2 separate regions of the Homo sapiens genome follow, and region 2 is linked to region 1. The links come from fine-mapping of genetic effects on gene expression. Tissue or cell type: whole blood. Region 1 holds a variant in brackets; the other region holds the start of a gene. All regions are shown on one strand. Distances are between the middles of the regions.

Region 1 (11,671 bases):
TGTTTAGTACACTCTATGACAGTTGCACAATGATGAAGTCACCTAACACATTTCTTAGAATGTATTCCCATTGTTAAGTGATGCATGACTGTCTAATTGTAACCACCCAACGGGGTCACCTTGCCCGCTGGCTCAACAGAACCTATTTATCAAGATGGGAATTACAGTAGAGAAAGAGTAATTCAAGCAGAACTGACTGTGTGGGAGACCAGAGTTTTATTATTACTTAAATCAGTCTGTCCGAGAATTTGTGAATTGGAGTTTTAAAGGATAATTTTGTGGGTAGGGGACCAGTGAGTCAGGAGTTCTGATTGATTGGGTTGGAGATGAAATCATAGGTAGTTGAAGCTGTCCTCTTGTGCTGAGTCAGTTCCTGGGTGGGGGCCACAAGACAAGATAGGCCAGTTTATATCAGTCTGGGTGGTGCCAGCTAATCCATTGAATATAGGGTCTGCAAAATATCTCAAACACGATCTTGGGTTTTACAATAATGATGTTATCCCCAGGAGTAATTTAGGGAGGTTTAGAATCTTGCAGCCTCTAGCTGCATGACTCCTAAACCATGATTTCTAATCTTGTTAGAATTTGTTAGTCCTGCAAAGGCAGTCTAGTCCCCAGCCAGGAAGGGGGTTTGTTCTGGGAAAACTAACCTAAACTGTAAACTAAGTTCCTCCCAAACAAAGTTAGTTTGGGCTAAGTCTAGGAATGAACAAGGACAGCTGGGAGGTTAGAAGCAGGATGGAGTTGGTTAGATCAGATCTCTTTCACTGTAATAATTGTCTCAGTTATAATTTTTGCAAAGATGGTTTCATAATAATATGTATATGGAATAGTTTCACTGCCCTAAAAATCCCCTGTACTCCACCTATTTATCCCTACTTCTTCCCCTTAACTACTGTAACCACTAATATCTTTCTGTCTTCATAGTTTTGCCTTTTTCACAATGTCGTATAGTTAGAATTATACAGTATATAGCCTTTCAGATTGGCTTTTTTTTCACCTAGCAATATGCATTTGAGGTTTCTCAATGTCTTTTTGTGGCTTGATGGCTCATTTCTTTTTATTGCTGAATAGTATTCCATTGTCTGGGTACACTACAATTTGCTTATCCATTCACCTATTAAAGGCATCCTAGTTGGTTCCAAGTTTTGGCAATTGTGAATAAAGCTACTATAAATGTCCACATGTAGGTTTTTGTGTTGACATGAGTTTTCATCTTTGGGTAAATATCAAGGAGTGCAATTGCTGGATTGTGTGGTGAGAGAGTATGTTTAGTATTGTAAGAACCTCCCAAACTGGGTATAACTTTTTTTTTTTTTTTTTAAGACACAGGTCTCGCTATGTTGTTCAGGCTAGACTCATCTCCTGGGCTCAAGCAATCCTCTTGGCTTAGCGTCCTGAGTAGCTGGGACTATAGGTGATTCCAGCTCACCTTGCTGGCTGTACCATTTTGCATTTCCACTAGCAATGAATGAGATTTCCTATTGTTTGACATCCTTGTCAGCACTTGGTGTTGTGCTTTGGATTTTGGCCATTCTGATACGGACACGGTGGCATCTCATTGTTGTCTTTTTTTTTTTTAATGAATTTGAAGTCTTTTTTTCTTATTAATAATTTCTTTTAACCACGGTTGTCAGAATTATTGTTGTCTTAATTGGCAATTCTCTGATGACATATGTTATTGAACATCTTTTCGTTCATATGCTTATTTGCCATTCGTATATCGTTGGTGAAGTGTCTGTTCAGATCTTTTGCCTATTTTTAAAATGGGGTTGTTCATTTTCTTTCTTTTTTTTTTTTTTGAGACAGAGTTTCACTCTTGTTGCCTAGGCTGGAGTGCAATGGCACGATCTTGGCTCACAACAACCTCCCGCCTCCCAGGTTCAAGTGATTCTCCTTCCTCAGCCTCCCGAGTAGCTGGGATTACAGGCATGTGCCACCACGCCTGGCTAATTTTTTGTATTTTTAGTAGAGATGGGGTTTCTTCATGTTGGTCAGGCTGGTCTCGAACTCCCAACCTCAGGTGATCTGCCCGCCTCAGCCTCCCAAAGTGCTGGGATTACAGGCGTGAACCACCACGCCCAGCCACATTGTTCATTTTCTTTTTTTTAATTTATTTTTAATTTTTTAAATTTTTTTATTTTTTAAACATTATTTTATTTTTAATTGACAGATAACAATTGTACATAGTCATGGGGTACATAGTGATGTTTTTTTTTTTTTTTTTTTTTTTATTGATCATTCTTGGGTGTTTCTCGCAGAAGGGGATTTGGCAGGGTCATAGGACAATAGTGGAGGGAAGGTCAGCAGATAAACAAGTGAACAAAGGTCTCTGGTTTTCCTAGGCAGAGGACCCTGCGGCCTTCCGCAGTGTTTGTGTCCCTGGGTACTTGAGATTAGGGAGTGGTGATGACTCTTAAGGAGCATGCTGCCTTCAAGCATCTGTTTAACAAAGCACATCTTGCTCCGCCCTTAATCCATTTAACCCTGAGTGGACACAGCACATGTTTCAGAGAGCACCGGGTTGGGGGTAAGGTCATAGATCAACAGCATCCCAAGGCAGAAGAATTTTTCTTAGTACAGAACAAAATGGAGTCTCCTATGCCCACTTCTCTCCACACAGACACAGCAACAATCTGATTTCTCCATCTTCTCCCCACATTTCCCCCCTTTCTACTCGACAAAACCGCCATCCTCATCATGGCCCGTTCCCAGTGAGCTGTTGGGTACACCTCCCAGACGGGGTGGCGGTCAGGCAGAGGGGCTCCTCACTTCCCAGAAGGGGCGGCTGGGCAGAGGTGCCCCCCACCTCCCGGACGGGGTGGCGGCCGGGCGGAGGCGCCCCCCACCTCCCGGACGGGGTGGCTGGCCGGGCGGGGGCTGCCCCCCACCTCCCTCCCGGATGGGGCGGCTGGCCGGGTGGGGGCTGCCCCCCACCTCCCTCCCGGACGGGGCGGCTGGCCGGGCGGGGGCTGCCCCCCACCTCCCGGACTGGGCGGCTGCCGGGTGGAGACGCTCCTCACTTCCCAGACGGGGCGGCTGCCGGGCAGAGGGGCTCCTCACATCCCAGACGATGGGCGGCCAGGCAGAGACGCTCCTCACTTCCCAGACGGGGTGGCGGCCGGGCAGAGGCTGCAATCTTGGCACTTTGGGAGGCCAAGGCAGGCGGCTGGGAGGTGGAGGTTGTAGCTAGCTGAGATCACGCCACTGCACTCCAGCCTGGGCAACATTGAGCACTGAGTGAACGAGACTCCATCTGCAATCCCGGCACCTCAGGAGGCCTAGGCTGGCAGATCACTCGCAGTTAGGAGCTGGAGACCAGCCCGGCCAACAGGCGAAACCCCGTCTCCACCAAAAAAATACGAAAACCGGTCAGGCGTGGCGGCGCGTGCCTGCAATCGCAGGCACTCGGCAGGCTGAGGGAGGAGAATCAGGCAGGGAGGTTGCAGTGAGCAGAGATGGCAGCAGTACAGTCCAGCTTCGGCTCGGCATCAGAGGGAGACCGTGGAAAGAGAGGGAGAGGGAGAGGGGGAGGGGGAGGGGGAGGTGTTCATTTTCATATTAAATTTTAAGAGCTCTTTGGGTCCAGGCGCGGTGGCTCACGCCTGTAATCCCAGCACTTTGGAAGGCCGAGGTGGGTGGATTACGAGGTCAGGAGATTGAAACCATCCTGGCTAATGTGGTAAAACCCCATCTCTACTAAAAATACAAAAAAATTAGCCGGGCGTGGTGGCGGGTACCTGTAGTCCCAGCTACTTGGGAGGCTGAGGCAGGAGAATGGCGTGTACTTGGGAGACGGAGCTTGCAGTGAGCCGAGATCGCACCACTGTCCTCCAGCCTGGGCGACAGTGAGACTCCGTCTCAAAAATAAAAAAAGTTATTTGTATATTTTGTTTCGTTTTTAATTTTTTATTTATTTTGAGATTGGGTTGTAAGACTGGCTACATTTTTTTTGTATTATTATTATTTTTTTTTTTGTAGAGACAGGGTTTCGACACGTTGCCCAGGCTGGTCTTGAACTCCTGGGCTCCTGTGATCCATCTCCCTCGGCCTCCCAAAGTGCTGGGATTATAGGCGTGAGCCACTGCGCCTGGCCTCTGTATATTTTGGATACCAGTTCTTTGTCAGAGATGTGTTTTGCAAATATTTTCTCCCAATCTGTTGAGTTTCTATTCTCTTAGCAGTGTATTTTGCAGATCAGAATTTTTAACTTCAGTAAAGTCCAGCTTATCAGTTTTTTCTTTCCTACATCATGTTTTTGGGGTTGTATCTAAGAAGTCATTGCCAAACCCTAGGTCACCTAGATTTTCTTCTATGTTATCCTCTAGGAGTTTTATAGTTTCGTATCTTACATTTAGGTCTATAATCCATTTTTTTTTAATGATCCATCAATCTTTTAATCTTCCACAGTTTTGGTGGGTTCTCTTGGACTTTATTCTGTAGCAGTTCATGACCATGTACCATTTACAGGCATGAGTGATAAACTTCATAGTGGCTGAGAAAGATCAACAGAATGAGTTGCCTTGTCCAAAGGAAATATGTCAGTGACATATGAGTGACTGAGTTTTTACTAATTGAGATTACATCCAGGTACCTTTTGGTGATGAAACTGTTTATTGTTTGTTGCAGAGTTCTACTGCAGACTAACAATTCCTGAACCCATTTAATAACCCATGTATATTAAATGTGATATGATTGGGATTTTAAAGGCCAGAGGTTTAAGAGAGAGATGTTCAAAAGTTTTTTTTTTTTTTTGAGACAGAGTCTCACTCTGTGGCCCAGGCCAGAGTGCAGTGGCACAATCTCAGCCCACTGCATCCTCCAGGTTCAAGCAATTCTCCTGCCTCAGCCTCCTGAGTTGCTGGGATTACAGGTGTGTACCACCAAGCCGGCTAATTTTTTGTATTTTAGTAGAGATGGGGTTTCACCATGTTGCCCCCAGGGTGGTCTCGAACTCCCGAGCTCAGGCAATCCGCCTGCCTCAGCATCCCAAAGTGCTAGGATTACAGGCGTGAGCCACCCGCTTCAGCCTCCCAAAATGCTAGGATTACAGGTGTGAGCCACTGCACCCAGCCCAAAAGTTGTTGAATTCTCAAATAATTAAGATTTCATGTGTTCATATGGACCATAAAGGATCAAAATAAGTATGGCTTGCCATTATTGTAATGTTGCTATCCTGAGTAGGTCTTTTTTTTTTTTTTTTTTTTTTTTTTGAGATGGAGTCTTGCTCTGTTGCCCAAGCTGGAGTGCAGTGGCACGATCTCGGCTCACTGTAACCTCCACCTCCCAGGCTCAAGTGATTCTCATGCCTCAGCCTCCCAGGTAGCTGGGACTACAGGCGCACGCCACCATGCCTGGCTAATTTTTTGTATTTTAGTAGAAACGGGGTTTCACCATGTTGCCCAGGGTGGTCTCGAACCACTGAGCTCAGGCAATCTCCCCACCTTGGCCTCCCAAAGTGTTGGGATTAAGGTGTGAGCCACTGTGCCTGGCCCTGATTGGGTTTTTATCATTATCTGTTCAGTTCATGTAGTTTTGGCTGTTAATTCTGTACTTGAATTATTCAATCACAAAGTGTTTTTACTGACTGCTGACTCTACTTTCACTTTCATTACTTAATGATGAAGGCTGTTTAAAATAATGTTGTAATGCCGGGCACGGTGGCTCACACCTGTAATCTCAGCACTTTGGGAGGCCAAGGAGGGCAGATCACCTGAGGTCAGGAGTTCAAGAGCAGCCTGGCCCACATGATGAAACCCATCTCTACTAAAAATACAAAAATTAGCCGGGCGTGGTGGTGCACGCCTGTAATCTCAGCTACTCGGAGGCTGAGGCAGGGAGAATCACTTGAACCCAGGAGGTGGAGGTTGCAGTGAGCCGAGATAGTGCCATTGCACTCCAGCCTGGGCGACAGAGCAAGACCTCATCTCAAAAATAAATAAAATAAAATAAAATAATATTGTATCTAGATTTTCAAATCAGGTGTTTATGCAGGAAAAGACAATTGTTTTATTGGTTTTAGAAAACCAACAAACCAAAGCAACAATAAAGATTCCTGTATACATTTTTTTCTTTAATTAATGAATTACTTGGGTCATTCTGGTAAAATAAGATGCTTTCTTGTTACCGAATGCCAGTTTTATCAGATGAAAAGGACTGTGTTCATAGATGATGGAGATAATCACCAGTTCTGATAGTTACTCTAAAAGATAAGACATAATCCTGTTCAGCCAGACCTAGTGAAAATCAGAAATACCGATGAAACTTGGACACGTAGAGTAAGATTTTTGGCTTAAAACACCTTTGCAAGTGGGTGGGTATGTGTAGTATTTATGTGTGCTACTTGGTTTCTAAAGACTCCCTACTATATGCTAATTTTTAAATTATGTACATGGTACTTTTTAAGCCTCGCAGGCTGGCCAGCCGGCCTACTGGCCTCCCTCCCTCTCTCCGTACAATAAATTAGC[C/T]AAAATAATGAGGTAATATCTAAGTCATTGTAGTCTAGGACTGAGTCATTTTTCTCTTTGAAAAAATTCCAGAATACTTTATATTTTCTTGAAGGTAACTTTTTTGCACTTGTTTTAAGGTATTGTTACTTTATTTACAGCCAACGAAATGGAACTGTTAGGTTTGTAAGCATCTTATATTTTTGAAGTGCTGATTGTATGTTCAATCTAATTCAATAAATATTTATTGTCTAATATGTTCTAGGCTTTGGTGTAGGTGCTTGGGATATAAGGATATGTAACTCATAGTTCAGCCTTAAGTCTAAATATTTAGTATATTTGTGTTTTTTAATTTAGTTTTTAAACACAGTTTTTTAAAATAATTTTGAGATAATTATAGATTTACATTCAATTGTAAGAAACAATAATACAGAGATATCCCTTGTACACTTTACCCAGTTTCCCCTGGTGGAAATTTCTTGCAGAATCATGGTACAATATCACAACCAGGGTATTGACATTGAAACAGTTAACAGTAAAGTGGTACAGCCACTCTGAAAAATAGTTCGGCAGTTTGCCTAGGAGTACAGTTGCTAGGCCATATGGTAGTCGCATGCTTACTTTTTTTTTTTTTTCTTTTTTTTCTTTTTTATTTATTTATTTATTTATTTTTTTATTGATAATTCTTGGGTGTTTCTCACAGAGGGGGATTTGGCAGGGTCATGGGACAATAGTGGAGGGAAGGTCAGCAGATAAACAAGTGAACAAAGGTCTCTGGTTTTCCTAGGCAGAGGACCCTGCGGCCTTCCGCAGTGTTTGTGTCCCTGGTTACTTGAGATTAGGGATTGGTGATGACTCTTAACGAGCATGCTGCCTTCAAGCATCTGTTTAACAAAGCACATCTTGCACCGCCCTTAATCCATTTAACTCTGAGTGGACACAGCACATGTTTCAGAGAGCACAGGGTTGGGGGTAAGGTCACAGATCAACAGGATCCCAAGGCAGAGGAATTTTTCTTAGTGCAGAACAAAATGAAAAGTCTCCCATGTCTACTTCCTTCCACACAGACACGGCAACCATCCGATCTCTCAATCTTTTCCCCACCTTTCCCGCCTTTCTATTCCACAAAGCCGCCATTGTCATCCTGGCCCGTTCTCAATGAGCTAGTGGGCACACCTCCCAGACGGGGTGGTGGCCGGGCAGAGGGGCTCCTCACTTCCCAGTAGGGGCGGCCGGGCAGAGGCGCCCCTCACCTCCCGGACGGGGCGGCTGGCCGGGCAGGGGGGCTGACCCCCCCCACCTCCCTCCCGGACGGGGCGGCTGGCCGGGCGGGGGGCTGAACCCCCCACCTCCCTCCCGGACGGGGCGGCTGGCCGGGCAGAGGCGCCCCTCACCTCCCGGACGGGGTGGCTGGCCGGGCAGGGGGGCTGACCCCCCCCCCACCTCCCTCCCGGACGGGTCGGCTGGCCGGGCGGGGGGCTGACCCCCCCACCTCCCTCCCGGACGGGGCGGCTGGCCGGGCAGAGGGGCTCCTCACTTCCCAGTAGGGGCGGCCGGGCAGAGGCGCCCCTCACCTCCCAGACGGGGCGGCTGGCCGGGCGGAGGGCTGACCCCCCCACCTCCCTCCCAGACAGGGCGGCTGGCCGGGCGGGGGGCTGACCCCCCCACCTCCCTCCCGGATGGGGCGGCTGGCGGGGCTGAGGGGCTCCTCACTTCCCAGTAGGGGCGGCCGGGCAGAGGCGCCCCTCACCTCCCAGACGGGGCGGCTGGCCGGGGGGAGGGCTGACCCCCCCCACCTCCCTCCCGGACGGGGCGGCTGGCCAGGCGGGGGGCTGACCCCCCCACCTCCCTCCCGGACGGGGCGGCTGGCCGGGTGGGGGGGCTGACCCCCCCATCTCCCTCCCGGACGGGGTGGCTGGCCGGGCTGAGGGGCTCCTCACTTCCCAGTAGGGGCGGCCGGGCAGAGGCGCCCCTCACCTCCCGGACGGGGCGGCTGGCCGGGCGGGGGGCTGACCCCCCCACCTCCCTCCCGGACGGCACGGCTGGCCAGGCGGGGGGCTGACCCCCCCACCTCCCTCCCGGACGGCATGGCTGGCGGGGCGGGGGGGCTGACCCCCCACCTCCCTCCCGGATGGGGCGGCTGGCCGGGCGGGGGGCTGACCCCCCCCCACCTCCCTCCCGGACGGGGTGGCTGCCGGGCGGAGACGCTCCTCACTTCCCAGATGGGGTGGCTGCTGGGCGGAGAGGCTCCTCACTTCTCAGACGGGGCAGCTGCCGGGCGGAGGGGCTCCTCACTTCTCAGACGGGGTGGTTGCCAGGCAGAGGGTCTCCTCACTTCTCAGACGGGGCGGCCGGGCAGAGACGCTCCTCACCTCCCAGACGGGGTCTCGGCCGGGCAGAGGCGCTCCTCACATCCCAGATGGGGCGGCGGGGCAGAGGCGCTCCCCACGTCTCAGACTATGGGCGGCCGGGCAGAGACGCTCCTCACTTCCTAGATGTGATGGCGGCTGGGAAGAGGCGCTCCTCACTTCCTAGATGGGATGGCGGCCGGGCGGAGACGCTCCTCACTTTCCAGACTGGGCAGCCAGGCAGAGGGGCTCCTCACATCCCAGACGATGGGCGGCCAGGCAGAGACACTCCTCACTTCCCAGACGGGGTGGCGGCCGGGCAGAGGCTGCAATCTCGGCACTTTGGGAGGCCAAGGCAGGCGGCTGGGAGGTGTAGGTTGTAGTGAGCCGAGATCACGCCACTGCACTCCAGCCTGGGCACCATTGAGCACTGAGTGAACGAGACTCCGTCTGCAATCCCGGCACCTCGGGAGGCCGAGGTTGGCGGATCACTCGCGGTTAGGGGCTGGAGACCGGCCCGGCCAACACAGCGAAACCCCGTCTCCACCAAAACCAATCAGGCGTGGCGGCGCGGGCCTGCAATCGCAGGCATTCGGCAGACTGAGGCAGGAGAATCAGGCAGGGAGGTTGCAGTGAGCCGAGATGGCAGCAGTACAGTCCAGCTTCGGCTCCGCATGAGAGGGAGACCATGGGGAGACGGAGACGGAGACGGAGACGGAGACGGAGACGGAGACGGAGAGGGAGAGGGAGAGGGAGACTTTTTAAAGAAACTGCCATTTGTATTGATATAATATGGTGGAGGCCCAGGTTCCCCACGTGGTCCCCGCTGATCTTGTTACTGGTCTGCAGGGATGAAATTCCTGGATACCCTACTTGGCTTTCTGTCTCCACCTTGGAAGGGGTATTGAGTGCTTAATTACAGCTTTGAGAGGTTGGAAATCTAGGCTCCCCACTTGGCCTTTGCTAGAACGGGTAGGTTTTAAACCACAGTATTTTCTTGGTGTTTGGCTGGGGTAGATTGGTTATTGTCTAAAACTTTTCTGTCTTGCTAGACTGCTACTTTCTTGGTCTTTTAGCTAAAGAAGACTGACTTTTGTTGGGGCTTTTCTTTTCTTTTTTTTTTTTGGAGACAGAGTCTTGCTTTGTCGCCCAGGCTGGAGTGCAGTGGTATGATCTTGGCTCACTGCAACCTCTGCTTTCAGGTTTCAAGTGATTCTCGTGTCTCAGCCTCCTGAGTAGCTGGGATTACAGGAGCCCGCCACCATGGCCAGCTAATTTTTTTTTTTTTTTTTTTTTTTTTTTTTGAGATGGAGTCTTACACTGTCGCCCAGGTTGGCGTGCAGTGGCATGATCTCGGCTCACTGCAACCTCTGCCTCTCGAGTTCAAGTGATTCTCCTGCCTCAGCCTCCTGAGTAGCTAGGATTACAGGCGCCCGCCACCACACCTGTAATCCTAGCTACTTTATTGTATTTTTGGTAGAGACGGGGTTTCACTATGTTGGCCAGGCTGGTCTTGAACTTCTGACCTCATGATCCACCCACCTTGGCCTCCCAAAGTGGGATTACAGGCGTGAGCCACCGTGCCTGGCCTGCTCCAGCTGATTTTTTGTTTTTGTTTTTTGTTTTTTTTGTTTTTTGAGGTAGAGTCTTGCTCTCTCGCCAGGCTGGAGTGCAATGGCGCGATCTCGGCTCACTGCGATCTCCGCCTCCTGGGTTCAAGTGATTCTCCTTCCTCAGCCTCCTGACTTGCTGAGACTACAGGTGCGTGCCACCACACCTAATTTTTGTATTTTTAGTAGAGATGGGGTTTCACCATGTTGGCCAGGATGGTCTTGGTCTCTTAACCTCATGATCTGCCTGCCTCGGCCTTCCAAAGTTTTGGGATCACAGGTGTGAGCCACCATGCCTGGCTGGGTATGTTTTTAAAATGACATTTATTTTTTCTTTTTGCAAAAGTTTTATTTAATGTAGATAATTTAGAAACACAAAAATTATAAAAGAGAATAACATTTTCATATATATTCTTCTAGACATTTCCTGTGAATATATATACATATTTTTCTTGTGAAAATAAGAACTATATATACTACTCATGAACTTTTTGCTCGATATAAGCATCATTCCTTGTTAATAAATGCATGAATATAGCACCAATTTGGTATCAATCAGGTTGTAATGTGCACATTCTGGAGATCATCAATATGTGTTACTCCCCTAGGTCGAGTGCCTGAGAGACAGATCATGTACAAATAAACGACGTACATTTTCACATGAATCTCATAGTTCAGACATCACTTATATACTAGAGAGAGTTAGAAGTAAATCAGATTTAGTCATTAGTTTTAGAAACACTGGGTATTTGGGTAGGTATTTAGATTTTAAAGTTTAAAAATAAAAAAAATAAAAGTGTTCATGTGGCTTTACGAATGCTATTTTGATTAAAATTCTTGTTCATATTTTCCATAATATTATAAGAAGGGTCATTATACTTTTCAGAAGAACATTTGAGATAATAATGGCTTTCTTGTTTGTTCTTGGAGGAAATAGGAGATACTAGCAGTGTTGTTTCAATGAACCCTAGCATTAGTTTTCTGCTGGAACTTGCAAAACAGAAACCAGAACGACTTAAATCTTTTCCATAGTACAGTTTTTTCTAATTGCTATGTGGTATACTTGCAGATGTTCAGATTTATTGGGAAATTTAGATTTCATAGCTTAGGATTTTTGGTATTAGCTATTCAGATTGATGCATCAGGTCTAATTAAAAATTATACTCAAGTTTATTCTTGTACTTTATGTTGTCTTTTTCTTATGATGTGAGTAGCTGCAGTATAACTCAAAACCAGTAATTATAAAACCACTTAATGAATGAATGTA
Region 2 (11,671 bases), 42 kb after region 1:
ATTCCTGGGCTCAAATGATCCTCCCACCTCATCATCTTCTTTTTGCTTTTCTTTTTTCCTTCTTTTGTCCCTGTCTCTCTACTCTCTCCATTGTCTGTTCGTTTTCTTCATCTGCCTCTGTGATCATGAAAATATTCGCCATGTTATTGTTTACCGTTCACATTTAGGGCTGCCATCCACCTGGAATTACTTTTTGTATATACTGTGAGGTAGAGCTCAAAATATCCAGTTGACCCAGCACCACTTATTGAAAAGACAGTTAATTCCCCCACTATTTTGCAGTGTCACATTTGTCAGATATTAAGTATCCATATGCATGTGGTTCCGTTTCAAAACCATTTTTTTGCATTGGCCTCTTGTTTTGTTTTGTTTTGTTTTTCCATATGTTCAGCACACCAAGTACATTGGCCTCTTTCTTGGTGATTGTGCAGGTACCACAATGTTTTCATTACTATATTTATGTATTTTTAGTTTCAAACATATGACATTGCCATAGGTTAGAAACTCATCAGTTTTCAGCATTTTCACATGGTTCAATCCATCAGTAAGTTTTGATATCCAGTAGTTTAAGTTCCTCTAAGTTTGTTCTCAAAGATTATCTTAGCTGTTCTTGACTTTTTAAATTACTATGTAAAACTTAGGATCAACTTTTCAGTTTGATTTGAAAAGAAAAAACCTACTGGACTTTGCTTGGGGTTATGTTAAATCTATAGATTAGGCCGGGCGTGGTGTCTCACGCCTGTAATCCCAACACTTTAGGAGGCCAAGACAGGTGGATCACAAGGTCAGGAGTTTGAGAACAGCCTGGCCAACATGGTGAAACCCTGTCTCTACTAAAAATACAAAAATTAGCCGGATGTGGTGGCGCACGCCTGTGGTCCCAGCTATTCAGGAGGCTGAGGCAGGAGAATTGCTTGAACCTGGGAGGCGGAGGTTGCAGTGAGCCAAGATCATGTGCCACTGCACTCCAGCCTGGGCAACAGAGTGAGACTCTGTCTAAAAAAAAAAACAAAAACAAACAAAAACTATAGATTAGTTTGGGGATAGTTGATACCTTTAAAATATCATAAAACCTTAAAATAAAATAAAACCTTATAGGTTTTTCCTAAAAGCACTCCCTTAGTAAATCACTTGTACAAAAATCCGTGCCTCAGATTCTACATCTAGTAAACTGATTCTAAAACACCTTCCTAACAAGGGGGAGTGTGATGTCTTTCTATTGTTAAGTTGTATTAATCCTGTGTTGCATTTCATTTCAGTGAATTTTATCTTGAATGGATTAGGTAGATTGTTGATTAATTCAGTGACCCTCAATTGTGGGTGCCTCTCGGACTCAACTTTAATGAGATTTCTCTGTGTCATGATTACCCTTACTGCAAGAAAACCAACAACACTGAGATTTTTGGTGCAGTAGCACATGCTTCTAGTCTCAGCTACCTGGGAGGTTGAGGCTGGAGGATCGCTTGAGCCCAGGAGCTTGAAGCTGTAGTGTACAATGAGCACACCTGTGACTAGCCAATGCACTCCAGCCTGGGCAACATAGTGTGACTTGTCTCTAAAAAAAACAAAACAACAACAACAAATAATACTCATATTGCTTAACCCTGTCCCTGAACAATTCTGATCCAGCGTGTTTTTTTTGTTTTTTTAATACTTTTAATTCAGATTTTTACTTGTATTTCAGGTAAAATATTAAAAGTTATGTTACTAATAACTTGAAAGATCTCTTCAACTTTTGCTGTTCAATTTTCATTTAATAATGATATTCCCCCCCTCCTTTTTGAAAGCATCTGTAAGATATTAGGTCAAAGTAAGGCCTTTGCCACGACTACAAAATGCTTGTTAAGTACTCCCATAGAGTTTGTATCTTCTCCTTCTTGCTCAGAAAAGCTGAGCTACTCTACCCTTAGTCGTGCCTAGAACCAATACTTAGAAGAACTATGAGGGTGCTTCCAGCTGTGCAAACATCAACCCCAGCAAGAGAAGGCTGGTATGGTATGGAGCAGAGCGCACCTAGCAGGACAAATGTGCATTTAATGAGAGCCTGTGAGGTTTCAAGTTTATTATATTTAGATGTCCAGGATAAAAGGTGAGAAAGATGCTATCCTAGCCATCGAGGAACTCAAGCGTTAAGGGGAACTCTGGGTGGGACACACATTGTAAATAAACAATTACAAGGGTGGGCATGGTGGCTCACACCTGTAATCCCAACACTTTGGGAGGCTGAGGCAGGCGAATCACTTGAGGTCAGGAGTTCAAGACCAGCCTGACTAACATGGTGAAACCCTGTCTCTACTAAAAATACAAAAATCTCCGTCTCAAAAACCCCACAAAAAACAAAACAAAACAAAAATTATAGAATTGGCAGCACAAATTCCTATGTCCTCTTCTACCTTCCACTTTTCTTTATTTTCACTGATATAAAATAGAGTGAAACTTCACTTTGCTTAATGGGAGAAGTTTTTCTTTTGTTATCTATTATTTTCAAGACAGGGCCTCACTCTGTAGCCCAGGCTGGAGTGCAGTGGTGCTATCACGGCTCACTGCAGCCTTGAACTTCCTCTGCTGAAGTGATCCGTCCACCTCAGCCTCCCAAGAGCTGGGACCACAGGTGTGCAGGCTAATTTTAAAATGTTTTCTGTGGAGACGCAGTCTCAACTGTGTTGCCCAGGCTGGTCTTGTACTCTTGGGCTCAAGCAGTTTTCCTGCCTCAGCCTTCCAGAATGTTGGGATTATAGGCATGAACCACCATGCCCAGCCAAAAGAGAGTTTTTTCTTTAATAAAATAGTTCTCAAAAGCTAAGAGCTGATCAAGTATGAATATTCTTCCTTTCTTCCAATCTCCTCAGCACTAAGTCATCCTAAAGTTACATGATATGCTTATTACTTTCTGACAGATATATGAGCTGATAACTATAGAGATTTAATATTTTAATAATTATAAAGTTTTAATATTTATATGATCATATTAACATGATGGTAGTGGCTGATATCTTTCTCTCTTTCTCTCTCTGTCCCTCAGAGATGTGGTCTCACTTTCTCGCCCAGACTGGAGTACAGTGTTGTAATCATAGCTCACTGCATCCTCAAGCTCCTGGGCTCAAGGAATCCTACTGCCTCAGCCTCCTGAGAGGCTGGCACTACAGGCACACACCACCATGCCCAGCTAATTAAAAACATTTTTTTTTGTAGAGATGGTGTCTTGCCATCTTGCCCAGGCTAGTCTTGAATTCCTGGGCTCAAGTGGTCTTCCTGCTTTGGCCTCCCAGAGTTCTGGGATTACAGGTGTGAGTCACCATGCCAGGCCAGTAACTGGTCGACCATCTTGAATATTTGTTTTTGCCACATTGCATCATGTCATGCTTTTCTAAAAGCAGAGAGAGCTATTTTTATTGCTATGCCTAATAATGATAAGATGACCAGCATGGAGAGCTGGTTCGTACGGTTACTCCTTACTGGCTTTCTTTCTATAATTCCAGACAACATGCTTGCTCTTGTACAAACTGTGTTTAGAAAGTGGAAGAAAATAGGTGAATATTCTTTTTTATTTTTATTTTTTTGAGACAGAGTCTCACTCTGTCACCCAGGCTGGAGTGCAGTGACACGATCTTGGCTCACTGCAACCTCCACCTCCCAGGTTCAAGTGATTCTCCTGCCTCAGCCTCTCGAGTAGCTGGGACTACAGGTGCACACCACCACGCCCGGCTAATTTTTGTATTTTTAGTAGAGAGGGGTTTCACCTTGTTGGCCAGGATGGTCTCAATCTCTTGACCTCATAATCCACCCACCTCAGCCTCCCAAAGTGCTGAGTGCTGGGATTACAAGCATGAGCCACCACACCTAGCCAAGGTGAATATTTGTAATTGGTGATAACCTTTCAGCCTTGAATCTGTTTATTCTTTTTCTAGTTGTGAAGAGTTTTTGTAATTTTGGAACTTCTGATTAATTTCAAATTAGATTCAATTTCTAATAACTTTCATCGTGTCATTTTAGAAATGTGTTTTTAGCCCCTTGTTTTGTTGGTTTTTATCATTTTGGCCTGTCTCCTCTGTAGTCTACTAGGAACAGAGAAGGTGTGCACATCACTTTGATGTGGTCCTCTCTTCTGGGACCCAGCAGTTTACAGGAGCTGGTATATACAACTAACTACAGTGGGGGGTCCCCAACCCTCGGTCTGTAGATTGGTACCAGTCCATGGCCAGTTAGGAACTGGGCTGCACGGCAGGAGGTGAGCAGCAGGTGAACAGCATTACATTAACTTTGCGATAAGTGTGCCTGAGTTCTGCCTTCTGTCAGATCAGCAGTGGTTTTAGATTATCATAGGAGCGCAAACCCTATTGTGAACTGCACATGCGATGGATCTAGGTTGCATGCTCCTGTGAGAATCTAATGACTGATGATCGGAGGTGGAAGAGTTTCATCCCGAAACCATCTCCTCCCTCTCACCCCTCCTGCTATCTGTGGAAAAATTGTTTTCCACGAAACCTGTCCCTGGTGCCAAAAGGTTTGGGGACCACTGAACTACAGTATAGATCAGACTCTACTGTTACAAGTACAGATGATGTATTAGTTCTGAATACTACTGGGAGAAAGATTCTAAAAAGCAGTCACAGAAAAGGTGGTAAGACAATTTATGTGGACCTTGATTTCAAGACTTTCACAAATGAGGAGGGAGAGAAGATAACTTCAAGTTTGGAGAGCAAATGAGCATAGGGTGTACAGTGATAATGTAAGATGGTAGATGGTCCCATGTGACTAAATTGTAGGGAGACCCTACATGGAAAGCTGCTGATGATTATGGTGGGTGATAGGACTGAGTCTTGTCAGTCAGCCTTGATATTACACGTAAGAGTTTGGATTTACAAAAAAAAAAAAAAAGAAAAAAGAAAAAGACATCTAGGCATTGGGGTCCCTTTAAAGATCAGGTGGAATGTTTTCCTGATGTTCAGGATTCTTCCTGCCTGCCTCCCTCCTTGCAGAAGAAAAGATAGGTAGGTATAAGTAGTAGGTAGGTAAAGGTATGTATAAGCAGGTATAATTCAAAAGGTATATGAAGTACAGCGAAGTCATTGTGTTAGATAAAAGCAGAAACTACAAAACTGTAAGGTTTTGCTTATTTTGTCACGCTCTGCTTCTGTTTTTGGTGTTCTGTGGCTCTTTTCGCCGATCCTTTGTCTCAGCCTCATTTGTAAGTGACTTGTTTTTTCCATTTCTCATTTTTTTTTCCATCTATTAAAGTGAGGGGATTGGATCCTAGATCAGTTCAACTGGTGTAAGCCTTTAGAGCCAGGCATGGTGGCTCATGCCTGTAATCCCAGCACTTTGGGAGGCCAAGATGGGTGGATCACTTGAGGCCAGGAGTTTGAGACCAGTCTGGCCAACATGATGAAACCTCGTCTCTACTGAAGATACAAAAATTAGCCAGGCATGGTGGTGTGCATGCCTGCAATCGCAGCTACTCAGGAGGCTGAGTTAGGAGAATCACTTGAACCCAGGAGGCGGAGGTTGTAGTGAGCTGAGATCATGCCACTGCATTCTCCAGCCTGGGCAACAGGCCAAGACCCTGTCTCAAAAAAAAAAAAAATGCCTTTAGAATGTGGTTAGAAATAATTTTTGGATTGGTATAGATTAACTCTGAATGTTTTCCTGTGTTAGAGGAAGGAAGTGGGATAAATGTAAAGTTTAAAAAAAATGCTCCTTTTTCAAAATTTTGAGGGGTTAGGTATTAAGAATCTTTTAAAGTTTTACTCATTTAAAAAATTTAGATAAAATGGAAGATTCATTCTTAAGGTTGGTGATATCAGAAATGTAAGTGCTGTGTCATTGTCATTTCTTATTTTGGCCTACATAACCGTAACCAGACTTCAGACATCATGCTGCCTGTATCACATGGCTAACAGTGGGAGGTATCTGGTGTGTTCTTCCTGGAGAAATAGATTGAAATTCATTTGGACAGAAATGTTGAAGGCAGGTGCCTGATCCAAAATGCATTTAGTCAGGACTGAACACAAGCTGCCTGGATAGTTCCTGTAAGTAAGCAAGGTAGCCTTTTAACTTTGTGATGCAAGGTTTTATGTATGTGAGTATGTGTGTGCAAGTGTATACAGTATTTTTATATCCAGAGAACAGGGCTCCCTTAAATGGGGGGTGGGGGGGACTCTGGTAACTACATGAAAGTAAAATATAACTTCTTTAAACCTATATCAGTGTGTTCTTTCATGTAGGAATGTAGCTGTGTGATGGCCTCAGCTATTCTAGTAATCAAGGGCTCTCTGCTGTTGCTAATCCTATGATGAACAGGACAAATGGTGGTTACGAACAGAACCCTGTCAAGCCTGGAAATTCCATCAGTTTGTAATAGCACAGCTGTTGTCCTTGAACTGTGTAGGGAGGAACCTAGGGGTGGACAGTTAATATATTCTTCAGGGGGGTTGTAGTTTATTGCTCAGGATAGTCAAGATCTTCCTCAGTTGTCTGTTGCTATCTGCAAGTCTGGTTTGGAGGAGAAGCAGGAGAAATTCAGATTTGTCTGAGGAATCATATGTGTCTGTGAACTGTGTAAGTTGGTAGTTGATTCCTGTAGACATCCTTGCTAAAGATTTATTTTTAAGTAAAATATCATTTTGCTTGAAAGTATAAATCAAGGTTTTGTGGTTAAATAAATTAAAAACAGCACAGCTGCCAGACAAAGTTCAGCTTGATGTATAACAGGCCTCTGAAAGAAGTTCAGTAAGAAACAAATCTGGGTAATAAAGTTAATTAGTAACTAAAAACCTGCTAGGCATACTAAAAAAAAATCTGATGTTGAATATTAAATTATTATGAAGCAGGCTATACCTGTATCCATCAAGATTATAAATGATCTCCCACACTGGCGACGTGGGGTTCCTTTCAAGCCTGAGGAATGAGCACTATATTTTGGCCACAGCATTCTCACTAATGTCCTAGGATAGCAGCTTAGTGTTGGCTTTAGAATTCTCTGTCATTTAAATGTCATGCAAAAACAAACGTATAAAAGAAAACATTAACCCAGATATCTTTATGGTTCCTTGTCTTGTCCATAACCGCCCCCGCCCCCACCCACCCAAAAAGGACAGGCTATCAGTTATAGAGAAAATATAAGTGAGCATTATAAGCAGTATCCTACCTTTAGTAATAATTATTTAAAGTTTATTAAATGGGTTGTTTGGAACTCAAAATGATTTGCCTCAAAGTAGCCTAGGTCACTGAGAAGAAAGTTTATTTCTTTCTGCTGAAACTGACAGGAGGCGATATTTTGAAAGATAGCAAGCTTGTCTTTGGCATGGTATTAACTCCCTTTCTTTTGCCTCCTAGGGCTCCTGGGCCTGTATACCCTTTCCCTACTTTGATACCATATCTATATCTGCTTTATTCCCTGAAAGTTCCCATGTTGCCATAATATTTTTCTTCCTTTTTCACACCAGAACCAAGAACTCAGACATCTTCAATAGAACCATCTCTGGGATGAACAATGGTCTTTCCAGGGATGTACATTTTCTTACCCACTTTTAAATTAAGAAATAGGATTCTATACTTTTAAAAAGAGAATGCTGGCTACTGCAAATGAATGTCGGTAGAAATTTGGCTAATGTGACACAGTAAAATGAAGGTTTCCTAACACAGTGGTTAGGAAAAGTGAGTATGATGGTGGGAATCAGGCTTCTGTTCTTGCTTTTTTTTTTTGAGTCAGGGTTTCACTCTGTTGCCCACGCCGGAGTGCAGTGGTGCAATAGTGGCTCACTGCAGCCTCAACCTCCTGGGCTCAATCAGTCCTCCCACCTCAGCCTCCTGAGTAGCAGGGACTACAGGCATGTGCCACCATGCCTGGCTAATTTTTACATGTTTTTGTAGAGATGGGGTTTTGCCATTTTGCCCAAGCTCTGTTCTAGCTTTTCATGAGTTTTTTCCCTGCATTTTAGCTCCCATAGTAGCACCTTTCAAGGGGTGAATAGAAGAGGACAGAGACAGCAACAGGCCATTGGTAAACCAGATTGCCAATTTCTCATCAGACAGAATGAGCACAGACCCCGAGTGAGTGGCTCTAGATGCGAATGACCTAAAATTTTCAGGAGGACTTCATGGAGCTTAAAAGGTTCTTCAGAACTTCTGTGTAATTAAGTTAGATATTAACACTGTTTAATCTGTATAGACCTGTAAAATATTTTTAGTACAGTAATTAATTCCAGAGTTTGTGAACTATCCAAAGTAAAGCATACAACAAAGTACTGTGGCCTCATCATATATCCTTATTTCCTGTTTATGAGCACCTAGCTCTTAATAGTGAGATTGTAGTCAAGAGAGTATTTTATCATCATGCCATGTAGTTGCCTCTTGCCTTAGTTTACCTATTTTAAAAAACCCGGCTCACTAATAGTTTCACTTCAGGCATGTCATCAGAATGAAAGATCAGATATACAAAGTGCTGTGCTTGAAAACTGTGTGTTCCCTTAGTGCCTGGTTAGATAATACAGGGCTTATTTTCTGGCAGAGTGGTGTTGAGTCTCCTTTGATGTTAGCCAGAACTGGGTGGAGTTTCTTAAGCTCCAGTCAGATTGGCTCAAGCAGGGCACCATGCAGTGGTGAATTTGTTTTCAGTCCCTCCCTTTGCCAAAAAGCTTTTTTTTTTTTTTTTAATAAACCTCAACCCAATTATAAATGAGAATACTTGATATATGAAATAATATGAAATGATAGTTGTTCATATTCACACTGAGGGTCTTAGGGGGTTTATTTATAGCTAACTGAAATGATGCAGCTGAATTACAAGTAGCTGATAGAATAATCAACCTCAGTAAACATTTAACATAACACTCTCATTTTACAGATTAGAGAACTCAGCCCTGAAAGGTGACTCATTCAAGGCCACAGTGAGTGTCAGATTAAACTGGTGCTTCAGTAAAGCATACAGACTTCTGTACCCAGCTTTCAAATTCTCTTGACTCTTACTCACAAATCTATTTAAAGTTAACTTTATTATCTGTATGGATAGAAGAGGAATAGTATAAATGGTCAATTGGTCAGTGAGAGGTTTTTTTTTTAGAGTAAATGCTTCTCATTCACAAGGGTTCATTTTTTGATCCTCCTGAACATCCAGATTTGAAAATAATAGTGTCATATCCTTTTATCCATAAAATATGTAACTAAGCATTTAAGGCATAACCGAATAGTAAGTAACTTCAAGTGATTCTGTGTGAGATGAAATTCATACATGAATTTATTAAAATTAATTTTGGAATACTTGAACCAGTTTAACATCTATAGAGCATTTAAAGAGTGTATTGTACTTATACATGTTTCAGAATAAAATAACTATAAAATTGGATAATCGCTTTAATTTATTGAAAACTGGGGATTTCTGGGAAAAAAAAAACAACAGTACTTTAACTTGAAAGATGACACTAGCATTACCTTTCTAGGATCATTTTCCATAAGGGGGTGTGTGTGTGTATTTTAAAATCATATTCTATTTATGTGGTGACAAGTAAAGAATAGCTTAACTGTTGATGAAATACAGATGCTAAGTGGCTAGCTAGATGTGCTCATAGCTTCATGACCTTCCCACTTTCCAATTGTATAATTTTCTATCAGTTTTACCCTCTTAGGCTGAATTTCAGCTACTGTTCATATTCCATGAACCACATGCAGCCCAGGAAGTCATCTGAGAGTGTGTGGCTGGGGGCGGGGTGGGGGTGCTGAGGGTTGGATAGGGGAAAGATTACAATGGATAAAAGCTGCCCTTTGATAATCTGCATTCTGATAAATGATATTTAAAATGTATTGGTGTTTTTGACTGTATTTTTACCCTGTGCCTTAAATGAGGAAAAGATTTGAGTAGATTGCATCTTATGTCATTATGTATTTCTGGGGAAAATTAAATTTTGGATTTTTATGGTATGTTGTTAAGGATGGCACAGATGTCCTTTTAAGTTCTCTTTGACCATGAAACTGATGCAGGATTTTTGCTCCTTAGCTCAACTAGGTCCAGGTTCTTATCTCAGGAGCGGAAGAATTAGGCACGTGGACATCAAAGAGTGAGTGGAGTAGAATCTATTAATCGAAAGGAAAGCTCTTAGCAAAAAGAGAGAACATGGTAGGTGGTTCTACTACCTGAAGACAGGAAAGTTCCGTAATATGGCTGAGCCTGGGGCTCTTTATTGGTTCAGAATGGGAGTGTGTGGTCATTGGTTTGTGAGTATGCAAAAAAGGTCAAAGCGAAGACACCACTCCAAGGTGGGCAGGACAGTGTAGAAAACCAATTAGGAAAGGGTAGGTACAGGTTAAATAGGTGAAGGATGGGGATCAATCATGCCAAACGGGAAGGCAGGTTCTTAATCCGATCTCAGGATTTACCCAGGACAGTTTCCGGATTAAAGTTCGGGTTTCACTGAGGACCCGCCCCTGTCTGCCTAGACATTTGTTTGCCTCTTGCCTCTATCAAAACTAGTTACAGACGTCCTTTTTAGTTTTTGGTTCATAACAGCTCCCAAAGGATAACTACTAATAATAGTTGTCAGAGATAGAATAGGGAAATGGCATAACCGAATAGTAAAAGCAACTGAATAGTTGCTTTTCATGGAACCCTTTGACATTATAATCTGTTAGGCTTTTAAAAGCTCTTTAATGAACTCATTTCTCAGCATTTTCCCTGTCATGATCTGGAGTTACAATAATACTTTATATGTAAAGTAGGCTGGACGAGCATAGAATAGGGCTTCCCACCCACATTCGTCTGTTGTAAATGGGTCACAGGTGTGCCACTACTACTATAGGAACTTTTTTTTTTTTTTTTGAGACGGAGTCTTGCTCTGTTACGTAGGCTGGAGTGCAGTGGCGTGATCTTGGCTCACTGCAGCCTCCACCTCCTGGGTTCAAGCAATTTTCCTGCCTCAGCCTCCTGAGTAGCTGGGATTACAGGTGCATACCATCTAAATAATAAAAATCAGTGCCCAGCTAGTTATTCTGTTTTTGTATTTTTAGTAGAGATAGGGTTTTACTGTGTTGGCCAGGCTGGTCTCAATCTCCTGGCTTCAAGTGATCCACCCGCCTTGGCCTCCCAAAGTGCTGGGAGATTACAGGCTGGGATTACCAAGTCCAGTTCCTACTATAGGAACCATTGAATTCCTATTTATGGTTCCTTCAGAAAAGCTGCTAAATCCTGAATTCGGCAGTGGTTATTCAAATAGTGGAATTTATAATTCCAGTAGTGTGAGATGGCATTTGCTGTGGACAACAGCTCTGTCATGCCACAGGAGCCCCTTTGGCAGCAAAGCTATCAGTTTTTGTCACGAGCCCCACACTACTTGTTTTAGTCAGGATTCTCTTAGAGGGACAGAACTAATAGGATATATCTCCAAAGGAGAGTTTATTAAGTATTGATTTACGTGATCACAAGGTCCCACAGTAGGCTGTCTGCAAGCTGAGAAGCAAGGAGAGCCAATCCGAGTCCCCAAAATGAAGAACTTGGAGTCCGATGTTCGAGGGCAGGAAGCATCCAGCACGGGAGAAAGATATAGGCTGGGAGGCTAGGCCCATCTCTTCATGTTTTTCTTCCTGCTCTATATTCGCTGGTGGCTGATTAGATGGTGCCCACCCAGTTAAGGGTGGGTCTGCCTTCCCCAGCCCACTGACTCAAATGTTAATCTCCTTTGGC

What was found.
Region 2: it holds the start of MAP4, and the variant in region 1 is fine-mapped to the expression of MAP4 in whole blood (INTERVAL, PIP above 0.99).

Annotation. Positions count from the first base shown.
Region 1 is chr3:48,053,057-48,064,727 of GRCh38, reverse strand. It overlaps a transcript of MAP4 not described here. Among named protein-coding and RNA genes, the nearest start is that of MAP4, 42 kb to the right of the region's middle. The variant C/T (reference allele first, on the strand shown) is at 6,468.
Region 2 is chr3:48,010,692-48,022,362 of GRCh38, reverse strand. It overlaps MAP4 (microtubule associated protein 4), which reads left to right and starts at 5,947. Exons shown (of 21, transcript NM_001385682.1): 1 at 5,947-6,029.